Linked DNA regions of Homo sapiens: regions 1 and 3 are each linked to region 2. Evidence: fine-mapped expression QTL. A gene starts in region 2. Each other region holds a variant in brackets. All regions are shown on one strand. Distances are from middle to middle. Region 1 overlaps TMEM71 (transmembrane protein 71). Region 2 holds the start of DNAAF11 (dynein axonemal assembly factor 11). Region 3 overlaps TMEM71 (transmembrane protein 71).

What was found. PIP is the estimated chance that this variant, and not a neighbour inherited with it, causes the effect. A credible set is the group of variants that fine-mapping cannot tell apart.
Region 1: its variant is the best candidate, but not a certain one, in a credible set for the expression of DNAAF11 in Th2 cells (Schmiedel 2018, PIP 0.64).
Region 3: its variant is the best candidate, but not a certain one, in a credible set for the expression of DNAAF11 in blood mononuclear cells (TOPMed, PIP 0.76).

Annotation. Positions count from the first base shown.
Region 1 is chr8:132,725,138-132,729,380 of GRCh38, reverse strand. TMEM71 (transmembrane protein 71) reads left to right here. Exons shown (of 10, transcript NM_001382403.1): 6 at 1,395-1,583. Among named protein-coding and RNA genes, the nearest start is that of TMEM71, 33 kb to the left of the region's middle. The variant G/A (reference allele first, on the strand shown) is at 2,527.
Region 2 is chr8:132,673,097-132,677,339 of GRCh38, reverse strand. DNAAF11 (dynein axonemal assembly factor 11) reads left to right here and starts at 1,795. Exons shown (of 12, transcript NM_012472.6): 1 at 1,795-1,856. The coding sequence starts at 1,847. LOC105375767 (a long non-coding RNA gene) reads right to left here and starts at 1,710. Exons shown (of 2, transcript XR_928665.4): 1 at 1,535-1,710; 2 at 1,282-1,448.
Region 3 is chr8:132,736,944-132,741,186 of GRCh38, reverse strand. The region is part of intron 5 of TMEM71 (transmembrane protein 71); the gene reads left to right. Among named protein-coding and RNA genes, the nearest start is that of TMEM71, 22 kb to the left of the region's middle. The variant A/G (reference allele first, on the strand shown) is at 2,116.

The DNA of each region.
Region 1 (4,243 bases), 52 kb before region 2:
CCAAGAGAATTCCTAGGTACATTTATGCCAGGTGAGCCAAATGGGAGACTTCCAGTGGTTGAGTCAGAGGTGTGGTGCTTAACTATCCCTGTGGTTGAAAGGCATTCTTAACACATTCATCCTTTCCAAGGAAGCTTTGGCTTATAGAGTTTTGGATCCCCTAATCTCTGACTCAAACTAAGAATCAAGGATTAAAATTCATTCCTTGGTGACCTCACATTGAAGACACCAAGTGTTATGAGGAATCATCTTAGCATGTTTGAAACTTGAAGTTGCATGCATGCTTTTGCAATAAACTTGACTTTTTGTGAGAATGTCAGGCTAAGTTTAGGGCAAGTAAAATATATTTATGTATGAATCATCATAGGAGAAAATGGGTGCATGTTCTTGAAGCTATGTGTGTATGAAATAGCCTCTTTGAATAAAAAAATTTAAACAGATGGTTGCTATATTTTATCTAGGCATTTCAATGTATTTTATAGAGGCAGAATTTCCTTCATGACACTTATCACAAGATATTTTCTTCCCTGCCACTCAGCAATATGTAAGGACAGAGATGTTGTTCTAATTCACCACTATATCCCAGCAGCTAGGTCAGTTTCTAATATATAGTCACATTCAATAAATGTTGAATGAATAAATGAATCAGAAGTAGAAAGAGTTGACTGCTGTAAAGTTTGGTCCTATAAAGATGTGAGGTTCATATACTGACTACATATCCTTTAAATCCATCTATACAAACTTCAGTGTCATTGAAGATGCCTCTGGCCTTTGTTTATCTCTGCACTGAAGATATTTCTCTTCAACCTTCAAGTATGAAGACAAATTGAAATGCCATTTGAAATGGTTTGCCTGTGTCCTCACCCAAATCTCATATTGAATTGTAGCTCCCACAATTCCCACATGTTGTGAGAGGGATCTGGTGGGAGGGTATTGAATCATGGTGATGGGTCTTTCTCATGCTGTTCTCATGATAGTGAATAAGTCTCATGAGATCTGATGGTTTTACAAGGGATTTCTCTTTTCACTTGACTCTTATTCTCTCTTTACCTGCCACTATCCATGTAAGATGTGACTTTGCTCCTCCTTGCCTTCCACCATGATTGTGAAGCCTCCCCAGCCATGTGGAACTGTGAGTCCATTAAATCTCTTTTTCTTTATAAATTACCCAGTCTCAGGAAAGTCTTTATCAGCAGCATGAAAACAGACGAATACATCATCTCATCTCATCCAAAAATCCTTCTCCCATCCCACTATGGTAGTGCAATACCGTATCAATATTACTATTTTTGTGATTATTAGGAACTAACTGTGCATTGAGCAGTCACTGAACACACACACACACACACACACACACACACACACACTCACACTGAACCCCTCTGCTTTTTCAGCAGATGATTTAGACTGTTCTTCTCTGACTGATGACTGGGAGTCAGGGAAGATGAATGCAGAGTCTGTGATCACCTCCTCTTCCAGCCACATCATATCTCAGCCTCCTGGAGGAAACTCCCATAGCTTGTCTCTTCAGTCCCAGTTGACAGCTTCTGAACGTTTCCAAGAGAATAGTTCGGATCATTCAGGTGAGTTCAGGTGTTTTAAATATTTGCCACACCCAAAGAATTCTTCCTTTCAGAGCCTGAGAATGACTTGGAGATGACTAAAATGCAGTTAGGAGCTGGTACCAACCTGTGCGAGGAAGGGAGGACATGGGGCCTCTGCCAAAGCCCAGGTGACCCTTTGCAGAGGAGATGACTGCCTTTGGGTGTCATGTTAGAGGCATCAGTAACTGGATCTGCAGTGTTTTACTTAAAAAATATTCAGAGACCGGGCACGGCAGGTCAGGCCTGTAATCCCAGCACTTTGGGAGGCCGAGGCGGGCGGATCACAAGGTCAGGAGATCAAGACCATCCTGGCTAACATGGTGAAACACTGTCTCTACTAAAAATACAAAAAATTAGCTGGGCATGGTGGCGGGTGCCTATAGTCCCAGCTACTCGGGAGGCTGAGGCAGGAGAATTGCATGAACCCAGGAGGCAGAGGTTGCAGTGAGCTGAGATCGCGCCATTGCACTCCATCCTGGGTGACAGAGCGAGACTCCATCTCAAAAAAAAAAAAAAATTCTGAGAATATTTTGTAAAATGTTAGGCTTCAATAAAGCAAAGTGGAAGATACACAGATGTTTGCTATTTTAATTCTTAGCTGTGTATTGGACATACTACATAAGAAGGCACAGTGGCTCACACCTGTAATCTCAGTATTTTGGGAGGCTGAGGCGGGTGGAACACCTGAGGTCAGGAGTTTGAGGCCAGCCTGGCCAACATGGCAAAAGTCCATCTCTACTAAAAATAGAAAAATTAGCTGGGCATGGTGGCACATGCCTGTAATCCCAGCTACTCTGGCGGCTGAGACAGGGAGAGTCACTTGAACCTGGGAGGTGGAGGTTGCAGTGAGTCGAGATCACTCGAGATCATACCACTGCATTCCAGCCTGGGTGACAGAGTAAGACTCCAAAAAAAAAAAAAA[G/A]AAGAAGAAGAAGAGGAAACAACAAAAAGAACATCCTTTAATGCTATGCTTCTGACAAGGAAAAGTCAAAAGATAATAAAGGCATTGGTATTTTCTGGCAGGAGCAAAGCTGTAATAAATTCAACAAGCATGTCCCTTAGTCTCTGGTTTGCTAATGTCAGATTAAGCATGTTTGGACATGGTGCTGCACCAAGGTGAAAGAGCCCACTCTGTCATTGGCTTGCTGAGATTAAAAGCCCAGATCCCTACTCCTTAGCTATAACTCAGAAGCAGTTTACCAAACCCTCTCAAACTTCATTTTTATCTCTACATGGAGAGGATCATAATTCCTACCTTGTCATGACTAAAATAACTCATGTAAAGTACTTAGCATACTATGTCATGTCTATTGAATACTCAGTAAATGTGAAGTTATTGTTACATAACATTGAAGTTAAATGGAAAAAATATTTTCTGTTTATTTGCTTTCAAAAAATCATAAATATTCACTTCACTGGCCATCACTCTTCTAGTCCTGAAGATCAATATGCTTTGTACATTTTGTTCCTAGTGCAGCTACTAGATAAGTGTTCAAGGGTTTTTTTTGTTTTGGTTTGGTTTTTGTTTTTTTATAGTTCCCTTTCCAGGTGTTGAAATGACAGGTTATCAACACCTAAGAAGGCTCAATAGCCACCTCCTCCAGGGAGCCCACCCTTCTTGGTGCTCCCCTAGCTCCCAGGACTTCTCTTTCTCATGCCCATTATTTGCACTGTCACTGCATGTTTGCCTCTGTGAGCTCCTTAAAGATAAGCACTAGGTCATTGTCATCTGTGAATTCCAAAATGCCCACATAGGCACAGAGATGATGCTTCATTACTGGTGGACCAATTAATAAGTGTGCTACCTCCATTTTACACATAAGAATATTCAGATTCAGACAGGTAAAGTTAACCTTTGTACTCTTTGCCAAGAGTTTTGTAAGAACAAATATAAGCTCTTTGCTGGGTCTGGAATCTCTCTCCCACCTGCTATACCTGGGTGGCCTCCTACTCTTCCTCAAGTCTCAAATTAAATGAGACCACCTCTATGCACCTTCTCTACCCCCTTCTGGCTGGTGGAGGTAGCGCTTCACTTCGCCTTGATTCCCTAGCACTCTATATATCACTATAGAAACTGTTTATTTTCCTCTTTCTCACTAAGCTATGAAGTCCTGGGTGGACAAGGTCTCCATCTTCCATTAAGCCCTTCACATGTAGGTATTGCATGTGTGTTCTTTTCCAGGTGCCAAAGATATAGGCAGATACATCAGTTGTATCAGTTGAAGATTTTTGAGTTCCAATGGATGGAAACCCAACTCAAAGTGGATTAATCAATAGAATTTATTGGCTCATCTTAATGAAAATTCCAGGCTTACAGTGCAGGATCCTGGCATTCTCTGTCTTTTGTTGTCTCTTCTCTTCTGTGTCTGTGTTACTCTTTAAAAGGTTGTACCAGACCAGCCTGGGTGACATAGTGAGACCTTGTCTCTACAAAAAATACAAAAATTAGTCAGTCATGGTGTCTCATGCCTGTAGTCCCAGCTACTCAGGAGGCTGAGGTGACAGGATCGTTTGAGCCCAGGAGTTGGAGACCAGCCTAGGCAACATGGTGAGACCCCATTTCTACAAAAAATTATCTGGGCATAGTGGTGCATGCCTGAATTTCCAGCTAGCTGGGAAGCTGAGGTGGGAGAATCACC
Region 2 (4,243 bases):
GGCCTGACCTCATGCTTTTGTCAGCTTAGAAACTAATCTTTCTGCCCAGTAGTAGCTTCCTTCTAGAAGCTAGATCCTTTTTAGCCTTGATGAACCCCTTGTTGTTAAAATGCACAATTCAAGCACAGGCGAATTTGCTAAACTTGCCTGCTGCTAATAGCATTTCATCTCCTTTGTGAGTAATCAGACATCAGTGCTCAGTGTCACGTGTCAGTGTCAGCGTGTCAGTGGCACGACCACAGATGTTTACCCATATTGTCATCATCATGTGGAAATAGAGAAGTTTCAGCTTTCAAAGGTGAAGTCATCTGTCTGATGCCACACAGTAATAAATCTGTGTATTTAATCTATGTTTCCAATGCCAGAGCTAATACTGTTCACCTCACACTAACCTGCTTTCAGAAAAATAATAGTGGATGTCAGGTAAGTTTATAGTTTGAGTGCCTTTTGGGAGGCCTCCTTGGAAATCCAAATATTCAGGGAAATAGTGCCTGAAATCCCACTCTTCCAGTTCAGTTCCTTTGGCCTGGCATTTAAGGCCCCCATTACCCCCGATCTAATCTCTCATTCTTACTGTTCGAAGATCCCTTCTATCTAGCTCTCTTTATTGCCAAACTGATGTTTCTGCTTCCCCCCATCACCTCACTCTGTTAGACTTTCCTGCCTCTCTGTCCAAGTTCATGACCTTGTCTCTACCTGGCAAACTCTAATAATTGCCAGCTGTAAATGCTTAACAGCTATTCGCTAGAAAAATTAATTTCTTTGCACTCAGCATTGCTCTAGGAATCTTCTTTTAAAATGCAAACATAATACACACATCAAGATAAGAAGCACGCACTCCATACTGTTTAAAACGACTGGGATGGGAGAAGGTTTTACCTTTTACATATTGCCCCCCTCCTTTTTCTGCAAATGGAGTAAAGAATAATAATTACTTTCATAATAATGGTACCTTTTAAAGATTCTTGGGAAGCTAACGCATTAAAGTGCTAACACTAAGATCTGAGGGTGAATGAGCTTGCTGATGTGCTTCCTAGTTTAGAATGGGAGAAGGCGCGTTGCACACTTTTGGAGAAGGGTCTGGGGAAACGTGAGGGGAGTGTGGGGCTGTAGGAGATATACTTCCTACATTTTACAATTAAGAGAGTGGAGAATAGGGAAATTGATGGAGGGGGTAATGGGTGGCGTTTCTGGAAAGCTTGTTAGCCGGAAACGAGTGTTGGAGAGTGACTTTAAAAAGCTGGAATATGACAACGACAACGAATCTTTATAGTGAGCCTGTTGTTTTCATAGTGTCTTTCATTCACTCAAATTATCTAATTAAAGCTTCACAGTGATCCTCTTAGGTTATTTCTCATCTTACAGATGTGCAAACTGAGGAGAAGGAAGTGTAAGGTCACGCCGCTGGTAGAGTTGGGGGCCAAATCCAGATCTGTTGGCTCTGGAAGCTGTAAATCAAACACAAAAAGGAAAAAGTCAAAGGCGGTCTGGAAGGCAAGCCTGGAAGGCACAGAAAAGAGAAGCGTCCTCATACTTTGTTCACTCTAAACCATTGATTCAGGGAGAGGGAAGCAGTCTGTGGCAAGTCGGAAGTGCGACGAGGACGAAGACTGGGTTTGGGTTGGGGAACCCCTGTCTGCTGAGCCCCTTCACTGCGGTCTCCTCTGCTTGCTCCGCGGAGCTCAGGAAACGCGGCTTGTTTTGGTCCCGCGCGGCCGCCGTAGAGTCCCCGTTGCCATGGCTCCTGAATTCCGACGGGGACGCGCTGAGGAGCAGGGGTGAAGGGTGAAAAGCGTCATTCGAGGTCCGGGTCCGGCTTGCGGGGTCAGCGAACTGGAGAGGCGCCATGGGCTGGAGTAAGCCCCCCTCCACCTTCCGTCCTCGATCGTTCCCCTTGTGGAAGTAGTCCCGGGTCTCGTGGGATCCTCGCCGCCCGCTCCCGCCCTGCGCTGTCGGTTCCCCCGCGCCTGGGCGGACCCTAACCCCACCCGGCCCTCCGCACCGCAGCCCCGGCTGCACCAGGTCCTCTGCAGACTGGCCGGACAGCCTGGCCTTTTCCAGCTCAGGTTCCTAATCTGTAAAATGGGCGGGGCCGTGGGAAGGGGAGGAAGAGGCAGAAAGGCACTGGACTCCAGGAAAGGGGTCGGGGAACGTGCAGGGGTTTTGGCGCCAGACACACCACGTTCCGGCCAAGTGGCTCCTTACTGGCTGTGAACGTGGGCCAGTCACTGTCTCCAAGCCGCAATCTTCGGACTCATTCCGGAAGGCAGTGTAGCCTAATGGTGGAGGGTTCCGACTCTGGAGCCAGGGTTGAAGTCCTCCCTCTTCCTGTGACTTTGAGCGAGTGACTTCACCCCTTGGGCCTCAGCTTCTTCATCTCCAAAATAATGGCAATCATACTACTGTTTTAGACACAGTAAGTGTTATAAACGTGTTTTTGTTTGTTTGTTTGAGACAAGAGTTTTGCTCTGTCGCCCAGGCTGGAGTGCAGCGGCGCGATCTCGGCCCACTGCAGCCTCCGCCTCCCGGGTTCAAGCAATTCTCCTGCCTCAGCCACCTGAGTAGCTGGGATTACAGCGTGCACCACCACGCCAGGCTAATTTTTGTATTCTTAGTAGAGACGGGGTTTTGCCATGTTGGCCAGGCTGGTCTCGAACTCCTGACCTCAGGTGATCCGCCCGCCTCGGCCTCTCAAAGTGCTGCGATTACAGGCGTGAGCCACTGCGCCCGGTAGTAAACGTGTTTCTTTAAGAATATACTAACAAACTGCAAGGTGATGCGGGTAAGTTATTTATATTGTATGAACCATTTTGATATCGACAACGTTTTTGAGCTCCCCATATGGCAGTTTTGTACAGCTCTACCTAATTGATCACTTATCATTGTAAAAATGTCATAATTAACTTTTTTTAAATCAAGAGACTGCTCCAGATGATGGGCTTTCTGCCCTGGAAGACCTGACAGCCTGCAAGTGGGAGAGGTGGGGGTCGGGGGGGAGTGATTTGTAAATGTTGAAACTCCTTTCCTAAATCAGCTACTGATATTTCTTCCTCTCTTCTCAGGGCTGTCTCCCCATCCCCTGGTCTCACCCTAGTTGGTTTTTTTCTTCTTCTCCTTCTCCTCCTCCTCCTTCTCCTCCTCCTTCTCCTCCTCCTCCTTCTCCTCCTCCTCCTTCTCCTTCTCCTCCTCCTCTTCCTCCTCCTTCTCCTCCTCCTCCTCCTCCTCCTGCTCCTCCTCCTCCTGCTCCTCCTCCTCCTGCTCCTCCTCCTCCTGCTCCTCCTCCTCCTGCTCCTTCTGCTCCTGCTCCTCCTGCTCCTTCTCCTCCTTCTCCTTCTCCTTCTTCTTCGCTTTTTTATGTCGGGAATTTTCCTTTGCCCTCTTTCTCTGAGTCGTGCCCACTTTGATTTGTTAAATCATTAACTTGTCAGACTTGCATCGGAGTGTCTACCTTGAATCAGGTATTGAATGCAGGATACAGTGAGGAAGGAGGCAGATGTGGGCCTACCCTCCTAGGGAGGGAGAAGACAAACAGAAGTATAGTGGTTACAGCCAGGAGAGAGAGGGGTGCCTGTGCCCTGAGGGTGTGGGTAGGGGACCTAACCCCAAGGTGGGTGGAGGCTTCTCTGAGGAAGCAGTGCTGTCTGGAAAGGAAACAGGAAAGCTCAGTGAATTGCCCAGAGGTGAGAAAGAGCAGGGCTTCTTGGTGGCTAATTGTCACTGACAGGAACTGGTGTGAGACAGAAAGAAGGAGTGGAGAGCAAAGAGATAAGGAAGGCCTGACAGGTAGGCAGGGATCCGCTCATACAGGTTTTGTACTTAGGATTTAGAAATTTATCAAAAGAGCCACAGAGAAACCAAAAGGTTTTGTTCATGGGCATAGCTTGGCCCTATAGGAGTTCGAGTGGGAGATAGTAGGCTGAACTGAGGTCGTGGCAACAGGACAGATGACAAGCACTCCTCCAATGAGTAGCTCTGATGTGCCAGGCTTGGTTAACATGCTTTACCTGCATTCTCTTGTTTGATCTTCCCAGCAGCCTTTTAAGGCAGGGAAGGATTACTGACATCTCTATTTCTTTGGTGAGGCACAGAGAGTAAATCACACAGTAACTATCAGGGCTGGGAACAGAACCCACGAAGATTTCCTCTGGGTCCTGCATTACACCGCACTGCCGCCCACAGGACTGAGGCGAGTGGACAGATTTGAAAGATGTGGGTGGAGAAAGTGGTCCTCTTTTGCTGTGCC
Region 3 (4,243 bases), 64 kb before region 2:
TTCACCATGTGGGCCAGGATGGTCTTGATCTCCTGACCTCGTGATCCACCCGCCTCAGCCTCCCAAAGTGCTGGGATTACAGGTGTGAGCCACTGTGCCCAGCCCTGAGTGGGTCTTAAAGGATGAATAGGATGGCTAGGCAGAGATGAGCTAGGATGATATTCCCAGCTTCCCCATTCTATCTTCCAAACTGCTGTGAGGCTAACCTTTTTAAGGCATAAATGTGGCGTTGTCATCATTCCTTAACACAGCATGCAAGGCCTTTTGAATATTTCCTACTTCTCCAACCCAAACTGGCTGCATAATTTTCAGGCTCAGTGCAGAATAAAATACAGGACCCCCTGTTCAAAAATGCTTAAGAATCTCAAGTGTCAACCAAGAAAAACTGTTAAACCAAGAAAAAGGCCCTCGGGAGCAAGAAGCCCTGTGCAATGGCACTTTTCAAAGGTCCGTGTGGCTGGTCGCGTCTTCAACTCCACCGTTGTCCTTTCCCTTACATGCAATTGACACAGATCACACTGATCTTTCAGTTTCCTGAATGGATCCTGCTCTTCCACACATCTGTGGCTTTACTTATGTCACTCACTCTGCTGTAATTCATTTATGAATTCATTTGGAAGATTTTATTGAGGGCCAATGATGTTCCAGGCATTATCCTACACAATGGACATAGTGGTGAATAAAATGGACAAAATGACTTGCTCTTGTGGAACTTGCATTTCTACTGGGGGAGATAGACAATAAATAAATTATGTAGCATGTTAATAAGTGGTGAGTGGTATGGGAAACAAGAAAAGGGGAAGTGATGGGGATTGCAAATGTAAATAAAATGGTTAGAGAAGGCCTCATTGAGAAGAACTTTTGAGCATTGGCTTAAAAGCAAAAGCAAAACAGCTCTGTGGATATCTGGGGGAGGAACAATCCAGGCAAGTGAAATGCTGGTGTACAAGTTCTAGTCTCAGAGCCTGCACTGGGCTGAGTGAGTGAGGGGGGATAGTAGGGAAAAGACTGAAAGGTGTGTCAGGAATGCAAGTGGGAAAGAACAAGGGGAGCTGTGGGGTCATTTCAAAGGCTTTGCTTTCATACTCTGAGTGGAGGGCAAACCACTGGAGGATTCTGAGCTGAGGAATAACTTGTTTCAATTTACATGTTAAAAGGATTATTCCAGCTGCTGAGTTCAGATTAGATGTCCGCTATTAGGAGCAGAAGCAAGAAACACGTTAAGAGGCTATTGGTGTGATTCAGGTGGGAGATAATGGCAGCTTGAACTGAGATGATAGCAGAATGGTGATGAGAAGTAGGATTCCAGATTCGTCTTACAGGTAGACTCAACAAGATTTGCCTACGTGGCTGTGAGAGAAAAAGAGAAGTCAAGGGTGCTTATTCCATGCTGAGCACTTCACATTTTGTCTTTTTAAAATATATTAGCTTGTTTACATACATTATCTTGTTTAAATATCCCCAAAACTCATAAGAAGTAGGTCATATTATCATATTTATTATAATTATGATAAAACTGAAGTTCAGGGTTAAGGAACTCGCCCAAGTTAATTTAGCTTATAAACAGCAGAGTTGGGGCCTGACACGGTGGCTCACTCCTGTAATCCCAGCACTTTGGGAGGCCGAGGCAGGCGGATCACGAGGTCAGGAGATCGAGACCATCCTGGCTAACATGGTGAAACCCCGTCTCTACTAAAAATACAAAAAATTAGATGGGCATGGTGGCGGGCACCTGTAGTCCCAGCTATGCGGGAAGCTGAGGCAGGAGAATGGCGTGAACCTGGGAGGCGGAGCTTGCAGTGAGCGGAGACCGCGCCACTGCACTCCAGCCTGGGTGACAGAGCGAGACTCCATCTCAAAAACAAAAACAAAAACAAAAACAGCAGAGTTGGAATTCAACCGAGGTCTATCTGATTTAAAAGTCCAGACTCTGCTCTGCTGCCCGGAAGGGCTTTGTTTTCCTTTTCAAGGAGAAATCCATCATGTCCCTCATAGTGCAGGCCGAAAGAGCAAGCTAGAGGAGTCGTATAATGCAATAATCTATTAACTTAAGTGTATAATAATTACATGGCTATGATTTTTCTTAATCTGCTTCCTAGACAGAAGACACACGTA[A/G]CATTTTTTTTTAATTTTCAGTAACTTTGATTCACAAAATGTTACAAAAAATAGTATAGAGAGGGTCAGTGTATGCTTCACCCAGCTTTGCCCACTGATAACTACTTATACAGCTATAGCACATTATCAAAACCAGGAAATGGACGTTGGCACAATGCCATGAAGATTCCACCAATTTTTACATATATTCCTGTGTGTGTGTGTGTGTGTGTGCATGTAATACTAGATTAGTTTTAAGAATGCAATAAGTGCTTGTTAAATGAAGAAACAGTTCTTAATATGATCAAAGGATTACTTAAATTGAGTGATTCTAGTTTTCCACAATAACAAGAGTGTAAAAGCAGGAAGAGGAGAGGGGAAAGAGCAGGGATGTGGGGGGTGAGGCCAGAAATATTAATTGTAGATATTTGAAGAACCTTTTATGCCATATTGAGGATTTGGGGTTTTATCTAATCAATCAAGAATATTTTTTGATTCTCTTAAGCAGGGTGATGATGCAATCAGATTTGGAATTTTCAAGTTATCTTTGCAGTAGCACAATTGAGGATTGGATGGGAGCTCTGAGGCAATTAAAATCAACCAGTATCCTAAGGAAGTGGCAGGAAATAGGGAGGAAGGAAGAGACTTAAAGAATATTTTCCAAGGTAGAATTGACAGGTTAGTGATAGATAGAATATAGTAGTGAGAACGTGGGAGAATCAAAGAAAACTGAGGTATTTAATTTGGGAGACTGCATAAAAAATTCTGCAAGTCACCAAGGGCTGGAAGATAGTGTGGTAGAGTGATAAGGAAAATGAGCTTTTGAACTAGATGAACCTGAATTCAAATCCTAGAACCAGCTTTTCCCACCTGAATGTTCTTGGGCAAGTTATTAACTAACCTCTCTGATCCTCTACTTCTTATATATAAAATAAAAAAATAGCATATAGAATGGGGAGGATGAAATGCAATAATTCATGAAAAATGTCACACTTCTAATATCTCTTATGAATACCAGGGGCTGGTATTCTGCTTAATACACATTAGCTCTAAAAAGGCAGAAAAGAACAGCTGAGGATCATCAAAACAGACAATGAATTGTATTTCTTATGGGTTGAATTTGAGATATCTTATGGGAAATAGATAACCAGTAGAGGTTTGGAAACATAAGAAGGGGGTTCAGGAGTAATTCATAAGCCAATCTGAGAAGGAATACAGTTGATACATAAGCCAATCTGAGAAGCAATACAGTTTTTTGGAATAAAGAAGTCTACTTATGGAAAACAAGTGAATGAGAAGAAAGGAGCGGTAAGAAAGGAATTCAGGAGGTTGAACAGAAGCCCCAGTAATAATGATCCCTAATTGTGTGAGTGCTAGGGGCAAGCACAGTTCCAAGAAAGCCACATGTCACGTCATCACTTCTCTGCAAAGCCTCTGAGTTATTATTATTTATCCCCATTTTCCAGGGGAAGAAGCTAAGGTAGCTTAGGTACTATATATGAGGCCACACAGGTAAGAAGTCGCATAGCCAGGATTTGAAGAGAAAAGTCTGAGCATGTGCTCTTAATCCTGGGAAAAAGCTCTTTGGGGAAAGTTTCTCAGGCAAGGAAGCAAGAGAGTGTGGTGTTATGAAAGAAAAGAATATGAAGAACTGGCTAATGAAGCACAGCTTGATAAGGAGGTCAACTCAAGAATTCTGTAGTCCCTGGTAGATGTGTTATGTGTGGAATCTTCCCTCCAAAGGCAAAGGAGAAGTTATCTCTCTGACTCTTTCTGACAGAGTGGCACAAATATCTTAGTACAGAGCTCTCGTTACTTTTTAATTGAGATATAATCCACGTTCCTTAAAATCTACCAACTTAACGTATACAATTCAGCGATTTTTTAGTATAGTCACAGGGAGGCCATGCAATCACGACTGCTTTCCTGTTCCAGAACATTCCATCAGCCCCAAAAAGAAACCTGATACTCACTCGCAGTCACTCCTCCTTCCCCACCAGCCCCTGACGACCAATATTCATCTACTTTCAGTCTCCGTGGATTTGCCTATTTTGGACTCTCATTATTTTGTTTCATTTTGATAAAATGTTTAATTAAGGTGTTGTTGATGAAGTGGGCAATGTGATGTTTCAACATATGTACACACTGT